Linked DNA regions of Homo sapiens. The protein of the gene in region 3 purifies or fractionates together with the protein of the main gene of each other region. This does not show direct contact. Each region holds a gene or a part of one and is shown on either strand. Other genes may lie near its edges.

Region 1 (3,657 bases), on a different chromosome or scaffold from region 3:
CTCCTGTACATTCTCTAAGAGGCGGCTTATCTGTCAGTTCCTCTGATGTCTGACAATATCATCAATGTTTATGTGTTTAATGAGCTCTGGAGAGGACAAGAATGATACAGCACTCATCTTATGAATTGGTGGCCTCCATATTCTTCCCATAAAACAGTAATTCCCAACCTGGCTGTACCCTAGAATCATCTGAGAGTTGTTTAATAAATAACAATCTCTGGGACAGTCCTCAGAGATTCTGATTTAATTGGTCTGTCATGAGACCTCAGCATCTTTTTTGCTTGAGTTCCCCTGGGGTTTATAACATACAGTTGGGTTGAACACCACAGCCAACAGCCATCTTGTTTAACCCAGCAGTGTTTGAAAGAAAATGTCATTCACATGCTTTTAGATATCTGCTTTGTACGTTTATATTACGCCACAAAGCCCACACCAGTCTCTCTGCCCACCACATAATGAGAACACAGTGATTTTTGTGGAATGAAGCCTTCATGTAATGCAAGCAGTTTGAGTCAGACTGTTTAGTTCAGGTCTTCAAAAAAGATTTTAAAATGAGTGTTAGAACACAAGACATTAACACCAGAGGGTCTACAGGTGATCGATCATACTGGTGGGCGGCTAAGGTTTCAGATAGTGAGTGCTACACTACTTGTTTTTGTTTCTTAATTTTAGGTCTGAAAGCTAATAACATTGACTACACAGTTCATTCAGTCAGAAGAGCTCTAGAAAACACTGCAGTGAAGGCTGACAATATAGAAGTATTTGCTCAAGGACATGGTATTATTCAGGTATTGTTGCCTATATGAAAAATGGGTTGTAAAGCATCATTGAGATAATATCTTAGATATTATTGGGTAATATTTTGTTTTATAACAGTGATTCAGTATATCTGAATTATGGATTATATGGCCATAGAACTACAAGCAAAAAGGATACACAAACAAATTTTGTAGTTAAGACAAATCTGTTGCACTAAGATCAAGAAATGTAATAGATGGAGGCCATGTAGAGGTTAGAAATTCAAAGAAATCGAGGTCAAAAACTGGCCAATCATAACGGCATAGGGATTAGTTCCTAAATTTGGTCACTTGAGAATAACAGTGTGAATAGAGTGGAGTGGAAGATGTGACTGGTGTTGTTTCTAAAAATGTAGAATTGTCCTCTTAGTTGGGGTACTAGGTAGTTTTGAGAGGTGAATATAGACACTAACTTTTTGTTTTACAACTGAAATCAAATTGATTGGTAATTTGCAACAAAATATTTTTTGACCCAACCATTTATATCTTACCATGTATATTATTTTCACTAGGTTGATAAAGCCTATGACTACCTCGTTCAGAATACATCATTTGCTAATAAATTAGGTTTTACTGTTACTGTTGGAAATAACCGTGGCATCTACCTCCGAGATCCTGTTCAGGTGGCTGCACCTTCAGATCATGGCGTTGGCATTGAACCTGTATTTCCGGAGAACACAGGTCAGTAATAGGCTGGCAGTAAGCTGACGTATTCACATTTGCTGTTTGAATGAGTGGTATCATAATAAAGAATTGCTGTTTGGGCCAGTGTTGTGAAGAGAATACATGAATTGACAGTATGATTATTTTAAATCTTAGTCATAAGAGAAAATATTAGAGCAATTTGGGGTCCTTGTACAATGGCAATTTAGTTAGCATCTTAAACTACCAGGGAAAACAGTAGAATGAGCCTCAGTGACCCACAGCTTTATTAAATTGTGGATAATAAAATATCAAATTTCTTTTCCACTTTACCTACTTAGGTATAAGACAGAGCTTTCTGTTGAAGAATGAAAAGTAGAAGCAGTCTAGGAGAACTGCAGCTCGATTAGGTGTGAACAAAAATAATCATCGCTATTATCTGGCTGTCTTCATTTCAGTTGAATACTATGACCTGTGTGCAGTAATGAAAACATTCACTTAAACTCTTTATTTTAAGGTCATACCAGTGCTTGGTGAAAGTATAAATGAATCATGAGTAATCTAAATTGTAAGGAAGATTATTTGACTGTTTTATTTAAGCTGTGTTTTGGATGCATTTTACAGCCAACCAAACCAAGTCGCTAAATTTTTTTGGAAAGATGTAACATTTTTAAATGGAAAAAAGGAAAAAAATACTCATCTTTAATTTTTGGTCTTTTTCGTGCCAGAAAACTCTGAAAAAATATCCCTTCAGCTTCATTTAGCTCTGACTTCAAATTCATCTTGGGTTCAGTGTCCCAGCCATTTGGAACTCATGAATCAATGTAGACACATAAACATACGTGTGGATCCCAGGGGCTTAAGAGAAGGATTGCATTATACAGAGGTATTGATGTATCTTCATTTTTACTTTCTTCACTCTTTAAAATGTTTAAAAGGTTAAAAAAAAATCCAAAGTATATTTGCAATATATTGCTTTCTTGCTAAGAAATAACTAGACCTATCCATCTGCCAGGTTATTCAGTTCTTCTGGTGTGTCTATATTCATTTAAGCAGTGAGTTTCTAAAGAATCATATTTTGTCCTTGTATGAATAAGTAAAAGGAAAGAAGAGGTACAGCAGAACCTTTCAATTAGATCTCCCTCTAACTGGTGTTTTCTTTTGTCAGCTAAACAAAGCTGCAGTTGCTTGTTGTTGTTGTTGTTGTTGTTTTAAGAGACAGAGTCTTGCTCTGTTGCCCAGGCTGGAGTACAGTGGTGTGATCGTGGTTCGCTGCAGCCTTGAACTCTTGGGCTCAAGTGATATTCACACCTTAGCCTCCTGAGTAGCTAGGACTAGTGGCGTGCACCACCAAGCCTGGCTAAATTTTTTTATTTTTGTAGAGACAGGATCTCTCTATGTTGCCCAGTCTTGTCTTGAACTCTTGGCCTCAAGTGATCCTCCTGCCTTGGCCTCCCAGGGCTTTGGGATTACAGGTGTGAACCACCACACCCAGCCAGTTATACCTTTTAGTACTCAGATGAAGAAAGCATCTGTTAAACAAATAGTTGTAAACCAGGCATAGAATAGTATCACAACAGTATCTCCACATCTAAAGTTGTCTGTAGTACTAGTTTGAGCTAATTTTTCAGTTGGGAGTAATTAAAATGCACTTATTTTGTACCTGACGTCTCATTTTCCCATTTCAACTGGTCAAATGTTGCTATACATTTGTTTGGGCTGTTTGCTATTAATTATGTGACCTAGTGTCAGGAAATTGGTGTCAACCTCTGGTTAAGACCTTGATTAAAAGTAGATTGATTTATTCTGTCAGTAGTTTAGACCTTCCCCCGCTCTTTTAAACATTTGTTTATGGATATTGACACTTACCGATTCTTTTTTCAAGGTATGTGGCTATGATATAGCATCCCCTAACGCAGGTCCGCTCTTCAGAGTTCCGATCACTGCAGTTATAGCAGCAAAGTAAGTAACAGGTTACTCACAGCTTACTGGTACATCTAAGATTTTAATGACTATTCATGGAGTCTTGTGGACTTTTAATGATCACTAATACAGAACCAGGTAATGGGGATTTTGTCTTAGTTCTGCTCCCAGCTAGCATTTTTAGGTGTCATGTAGTCAGCCATACTGACTCTTGTGTGCTCTGAGAGTAACTGATGGCACCTGGCATCTGCCCTACCTCTGCATCAAAACTATTTCCACCACAGTCACTCTGAGC
Region 2 (3,657 bases), on a different chromosome or scaffold from region 3:
CCATAAAATGTTAGGAATCTAGCCAGAAGGCCACAAGCAGCCACTGTTGGACAGTCCTGGCCACTGGCACAATCCACACCCAACTTTCAAACCCACCCAGCGGCTCTGGGCCCAGGGAGGGGCCTCCTAGACTGCAGAAAGCATCTCATCTGTGAGGACATACTTGGATAGGACAAGTGAGACATTTGGAATTTTTACTTAACATTTATTTCACAACTTTCTCAAGTGCTAAGCAACTGAGAAGTAGTCATTTTAATGTACTCTTTCATCAATAAGCATTAAATAAGTCTGCTCAAAACACTCAAGCCCTACAAACTGTCCCTATGAAAAATGTGGCAAGAAAAAATAACAAAAACAAATAAGTAGCCTTTTCACATACAGAAAAGGTGTTTAGTGATCCAAATTCAGAGAGAAAAACAGTCCTTTCCGGCAGATGAACAAATAGTTTCCTCTACGAGTGACACATTCTGGGATATTTGAACTGCCAAACATAACTCATAATGACAACCACCAAGGAAGCAAAACCTAATGGAAAAGCCCCAGGATGGCAACCAGGAGCCCCAGTTCTGGTCCCAGGACGGCCTCTGGCTGTTTGCTCCATCAACGTGCTGACCAAGCCTGGCCCACTTTCTTCATCACAGGAAGGAATATCTATTGCCACCTGTACCACTCAGAAATGTTTTGAGGACAAAAGAATGAGAGGTGAAAGTGCTTTGGAATGTGCATCTTCTATAAATACAAGTCATCATTATTATTAGCTCAAAGATGACCAGGAAAATAGGATTACAGAATATCACAGGTGAGAGGGAGCTTAGAGATGGAATAATCCAGTTCTTAATCTGGGTCCACGCCTATGAAGCTGTCCCCCTTCGTGGGAAGGGGTCACAGTTGCTATCAGATTTGCAAAAGGTGAAGGTCCTCTAAGTCCTTCATTTTACAAATATGAAAACTGAGACCTGGAGTTCTGTGCTGATTGTCCCAGACCTCAGGGTTGGTCAGGGAAAGGCTGGACAAGAGCCCAAGGCTCCTAGTCTCCATCCACGCTCCTCCCCCTCTGTCATCTCATATTCTTGGGAGGAAAAATAATCATATAAATTTTATCTGGCCACAGAATATGTACTATAAACCACCACACATGCACTTTCCAAAGGTACAGCAAAATCTCTAGCCTTATTTATCATTTTTAAGGCTTCTTGCGAGGTCTTTGATAGTTGAGACATCATTTTATTTTTTCTATTTTTTTTTTTTTTTTTTTTTGAGACAGAGTCTTGCTCTGTCACCCAAGGCTGGAGTGCAGTGGCACAATCTCGGCTCACTGCAGCCTCTGCCTCCCGGGTTCTAGTGATTCTCCTGCCTCAGCCTCCCGAGTAGCTGAGATTATAGGCGCACGCCACCATACCCGACTAATTTTTGTATTTTCAGCAGAGATGGGGTTTCACCATGTTGGCCAGGCTGGTCTCGAACTCCTGACCTGAAGTGATCTGCTCCTTTACTTCCCATAGTGCTGGGATTACAGGTGTGAGCCACAGCGCCCAGCCCCATTTTATTATTTCTATATTCTCATCTCCGTCTAGTTCAGTGCCTAAAATCAAGAAACACGCAAATGATTTTTTTAGGATTGAAAATAGGCCAGGTGTGGTAGCTCACACCTGTAATCCTAGCACTTTGGGAACCCGAGATGGGAGGATCACTTGAGGCCAGGGGTTTGAGACCAGCCTGGCAAACATGGCGGAATCCCATCTCTGTTTAAAAATACATATATATATATATTTTTTTTTAATTGAAAATAAAAAAGACCGGCCAGGCACGGTGGCTCACGCCTGTAATCCCAGCACTTTGGGAGGCAGAGGCGGGCAGATCACGAAGGTCAGGAGATCAAGACCATCCTGGCTAACATAGTGAAACCCCGTCTCTACTAAAAATACAAAACATTAGCCAAGTGTGGCGGCGGGCGCCTGTAGTCCCAGCTACTTGGGAGGCTGAGGCAGGAGAATGGCATGAACTCGGGAGGCGCAGCCTGCAGTGAGCCAAGATCACACCACAGGGCACTTCCAGCCTGGGCAACAAAGCGAGACTCCGTCTCAACAACAACAACAACAAAAAAAGACAAGAAAGGAAAAGAAAAAAGACCTTATTCTAGGAAACAAGAAAGACTCTATGGTGCTTTAAGTTTTATTAAGCAAACAGATGAACATGCATTTATGGGAATAAGCACAATTCAATAGGTAACTTAAGGAAAGGTGGTTTTTATTTGTTTTATGTGTGCTTTTCATCAAAATGTCAAAACTTGTGCTCTTTGGTGGCCACTGTCCCTCAAGTAGTTACCTTTGGAACTGCAGAGATACCAAAAAATGATGTATTGTGCAGAATAATTTGAGAATTCTTTGAAGCCTGTCTCCAGTCCACAGACAGAGCATACTCATCTGAACACTAAAATTCTGCAGAAATTCCTACAAAACTATCCCAAGAACCACCACTGGGACGCATCTGGAGTCTGTCTGGGGCAGGGACGAATGATACTTTCTGGTATGTGAGGGATCAGTGCCCTGGCCATAAGGAAAGACTCTACCTGTGGAATGCAAACTGCCTTCGTAACTAAGGCATTGCTGCACTGCCCTCAGGTATGCAGCTACCATTCCAAACAACCTAACTGGAAAAAAACTAAGCCAGCACTATTGCTCACATGAATGTGGTCATTAATCGCATAATCTACAGGGCGGCCTCCACAAAGCTGCCATTACAATCTGATGGCAGATAAAGCAGGCCCGAGTCAGCTGGGAGGTTCACATGAAGGTGGCCAGAGAGCATCTGGTAAATGCCACTGCGAACTCTAAACACAAGGTGCCATCACTATTATTAAAGAAACTTTTCGATCTGTTTGATATTCCACAACATCCGGAATCATCCACTGATAACCCCTTCAGAATCAGTAAGCCTGAGCATGACGCCCTTAACACAGCACAGACTTTCAAGGTATAGAGAAGAAACAAAAGGCAAGGACATCTGCGAGGCCGAGGCGGGCAGATCACTGGAGGTCAGGAGTTCCAGATCAGCCTGGCCAACACTGTGAAACCCCATCTCTATTAAAAATACAAAAACTAACCAGGCAAGGTGGCAGGCGCCTGTAATCCCAGCACTTTGGGAAGCTGAGGTGGGCAGATCACCTGAGGTCAGGAGTTCCAGATCAGCCTGGCCAACATGGTAAAACCCCATCTCTATTAAAAATACAAAAACTAGCCAGGCAAGGTGGCAGGTGCCTGTAATCCCAGCACTTTGGGAGGCCAAGGCAGGTGGATCACAAGGTCAGGAAATCGAGACCATACTGGCCAACACGGTGAAATCCCGTCTCTACTATAAATACAAAAATTAGCCAGGCGTGGTGGTGGATGCCTGTAGTCCCAGTTACTCAGGAGGCTGAGGCAGGGGAATCACTTGAACCTGGGAGGCAGAGGTTACAGTGAGCTGAGATCGCACCACTGCCTCCAGCCCGGGCGACAGAGCGAGACTCTGTCTCAAAATAAATAAATACATACATACATACATACATACATACATACATACATACATACATACAAACATACAAAAACTAGCCAGGCAAGGTGGCAGGCGCCTGTAATCCCAACTACTGAGGAGGCTGAGGCAGAGGAATCATTTGAA
Region 3 (3,090 bases):
AAATTCTACTGTGTGCATTCTTTTCTAACAATAATTCTCATTGCTTTTTACTAAACATAAAATAGAAATTCATAATGGAATAAAACACCAAAGATACATCCTCATTATTGATTTAGAATTGAATGACTTTACCATCCAATAAATTCGAGGTTCAAGCAATGAATTCTAAGCACAATGTGGTGTATTCCTGTGGTTCAAATAACAATAGAAAAGAGCAATATTTATCCTGGGATAAGCTGTTACTTCTTAATAATTATAAATAGACATCATAAATTCTACAAATGAAATATAAAATACATGAATGAAATATACATGGCTTCAAAATTCTAAGAAATTTTTGTCATATTTTGTATAATTTGGCAGTTTGTATGAAAAAAACAGAAAAGAGCATGTTATTGTCAATGTTCTTAAGTTTTCATACACACATAAACACACACATATATATATTTTTTTTTCTAGACTAATATTAGGTCAAAGGCTTTTCTAGGTATACGTTGGGAAATTATTCATACACATACAGTATAGAAAAACCAGTAAGAAATATAAAATGTTTCATACACCACCAGTTTGTTTTCTGCTAGAAGACACACAATGCCCCTCTCATGAATCTATGGAGATGAAGGCTTCTCTCCTTTCACCCAGTACCTCACTTGCCGCAAAACTGAAAGAAAAGTCTGCTTTAGCTTCTTGTTTCCCCAAATCAGGATGAATGGGTGGATTGAAGGATAGCTGAATCTAATAGCTTTGCAGAACATGAAGACAGGTTTGTTTTCCAGACTCCCAAAACTCCAAACTGATATCATTATGGACAGAAAGTAAACGGCACATAACAAGAGGAAAAAGATCACAGTTTGCAAAGCTTTTATGTGGACCTTGGTGCTGGGATCTTGAGATCCTTTACCATGGAGCTGCATCTTCTTGAGATGTTTACACAGAGAACAGATTAACAGCAAAAAACATAGCAGGGTCAGAGTGAAGGGCACTAAGTTTCCTAGCGTGGTTACAGTCGCATCTGAAAGGTACACTGCACTCCTCAATTTGATCTTCCAAGTCAAGTTTCCTTCATATTCTTTTGTCCGTACAATCTCTTTCATGTTTATCACAAAAAGTTGACAAGCCAAAAATAGTAAAGGCCCCAACAGCATCACCAGAATGACACTCTTAACTCTCCTCTTTAAGTGAAGAAAAATAAGGTTGGAGAAATTGGCAATCTTGAGCAAATAAAATATGCTGAGGCTAGTAGCAAGCCAGTTGCTGAAATGGCCGGTTACTGCCCAGACATTATAAGCAGTAGTTCTTACTTCTACACTATAAAAAGCTGGATTAAACACAGTTGAATACCAATTTAATAATAATACCCAGAGCAAACCAACTCTGGAGACCGCCAGAGCAGTGAGAATCTGGTCAGCAAAAGAGATCTTTTGTCTCTTGACCCGCTCAATGGAATTTACCAATGCTATGAAGCCATTAGCAAAATTTCCAATAACAAATAGAACCACTACCACACTGGAAAAAATGATGGGTATAAAAGTTGTCATGTCTGAACAGACAAAAAAAAATTGTTTTAATGCTGGTGTTGTGTCCGGAGTTGGTTCCTGCAGGTGGGTTCGTGGTCTCCCTGACTTCAAAAATGGAGCCACCGACCTTCACGGTGAGTGTTGCTGCTCTTAAAGATGGCATGGACCCAAAGAGTGAGCAACAGCAAGGTTTATTGAGAAGAGAGAAAGGACAAAGCTTCCACCGGGAGGAAGGCGACCCAGGCAGGTTGCTGCTGCTGGCTGAAGCCATGAGCTTTTATTCCCTTATTTGTCCCCTCCCATTTTCCTTTTTTTGTCCTATCAGAGTGCCCTTTTTTCAATCCTCCCTGCCATTGGCTACTTTTAGGATCCTGTTGCTTGGTGTATTTTAGAGCGATTGGTGCATTTTACAATCCTCTTGCTAGCTACAGAGCGCTGATTGCTGTGGTTTTACAGTGCACTGTTTGGTGCATTTTACAATCCCCTTGCTAGCTACAGAAACGTTCTCCAAGTCCCCACTCGATTCAGAAAGTATAGCTCGCTTCATCTCTCAATGTAATATAACTGGGTGTGATTGCTTGAATATCCTGACCTTAAATTCTATATGCACCTGATTTGTGAATGTGCTGTGACATTCTTTTTACTTTTAATTGTTGTGACCAGTGTCAAGCCAGAAATAACCATGGCATGTTAACTGATGAGTTCAATGATCTCTTTATGGAAAACATTCTTATTTTCAAACAACTCAAATTAACTCATTCATTCACTGTCTGTTCTTGTTATAGGCTGGAATTATTCACACTGAAATTGACGTGAAACCTGAATCCTCATTTGCTAGTACGCAAATAGGGACATATTCACTTTCAGTGTTTGCAATTTTTCCTTGTGTAACCTCTCCATCATTTATCTTTAGTGACTTCAGTTGTTAGGGAAGTTTTGTAACTCAATATATATATCATATAGTAAATATCTAAATTCTCAAAGGGAGCTTGGTCATAACTAAGATCATCACCAATGCGGACTTTTTTAAATCACAGATTTAAATACACAGAATCCTAACTGCTTTTATCAAAGGCATCTCAGATTTTCTTGAGAACCACAGGCAGGCCACTACTCCATAAGATCTGGTTGCTGCTAACACTTTCGTATAACTTCATTATTCACAAACTCATAAATATGCACACAAATATACACATGTGCACACCACTTATGAATGGAACAAATTATTTTCTTGTAATTTCCAAAATAAAAAATGAGTTTCCAAGAGGCTGTGCAGATGAAATTAGTCCTATTTTCCCACTCAGGGTTTTCAGCCCATGAATAATATTTATTTATCAAAAACATTATCTCTAATTCTTAGGACTTGGTAAAGTTTCTCTCAAGTCTAATGTTTAAATATTATTATAAAAAATATTTAGCAATTTTATAAGAATTCCTCAGTACCAGACCCTTTGATATATAATCCTGCAGTATCCTATCACAGGAAGACTGACTACCTTGCCCCTGAACTTGGAGTTCAATCATTTCACTTACTTTGATAAACAGAAAATTACTACAGTTTGCATAGAGATTT

Evidence for each region.
Region 1: the proteins of TAS2R31 (region 3) and TPP2 purify together in Homo sapiens (affinity purification with mass spectrometry; one large-scale study listed by BioGRID and IntAct). This does not show direct contact.
Region 2: the proteins of TAS2R31 (region 3) and PACSIN2 purify together in Homo sapiens (affinity purification with mass spectrometry; one large-scale study listed by BioGRID and IntAct). This does not show direct contact.

Annotation. Positions count from the first base shown.
Region 1 is NC_000013.11:102,634,915-102,638,571, forward strand, and holds part of TPP2 (tripeptidyl-peptidase 2), read left to right. Parts: intron 1-672; coding exon 673-788; intron 789-1,309; coding exon 1,310-1,478; intron 1,479-2,167; coding exon 2,168-2,325; intron 2,326-3,324; coding exon 3,325-3,401; intron 3,402-3,657. UniProt on the Homo sapiens protein: Cytosolic tripeptidyl-peptidase that releases N-terminal tripeptides from polypeptides and is a component of the proteolytic cascade acting downstream of the 26S proteasome in the ubiquitin-proteasome pathway.
Region 2 is NC_000022.11:43,008,630-43,012,286, forward strand, and holds part of PACSIN2 (protein kinase C and casein kinase substrate in neurons protein 2), read right to left. Parts: intron 1-3,657.
Region 3 is NC_000012.12:11,029,798-11,032,887, forward strand, and holds TAS2R31 (taste receptor type 2 member 31), read right to left. Parts: upstream 1,611-3,090; 5' UTR 1,539-1,610; coding exon 609-1,538; 3' UTR 590-608; downstream 1-589. UniProt on the Homo sapiens protein: Receptor that may play a role in the perception of bitterness and is gustducin-linked. May play a role in sensing the chemical composition of the gastrointestinal content.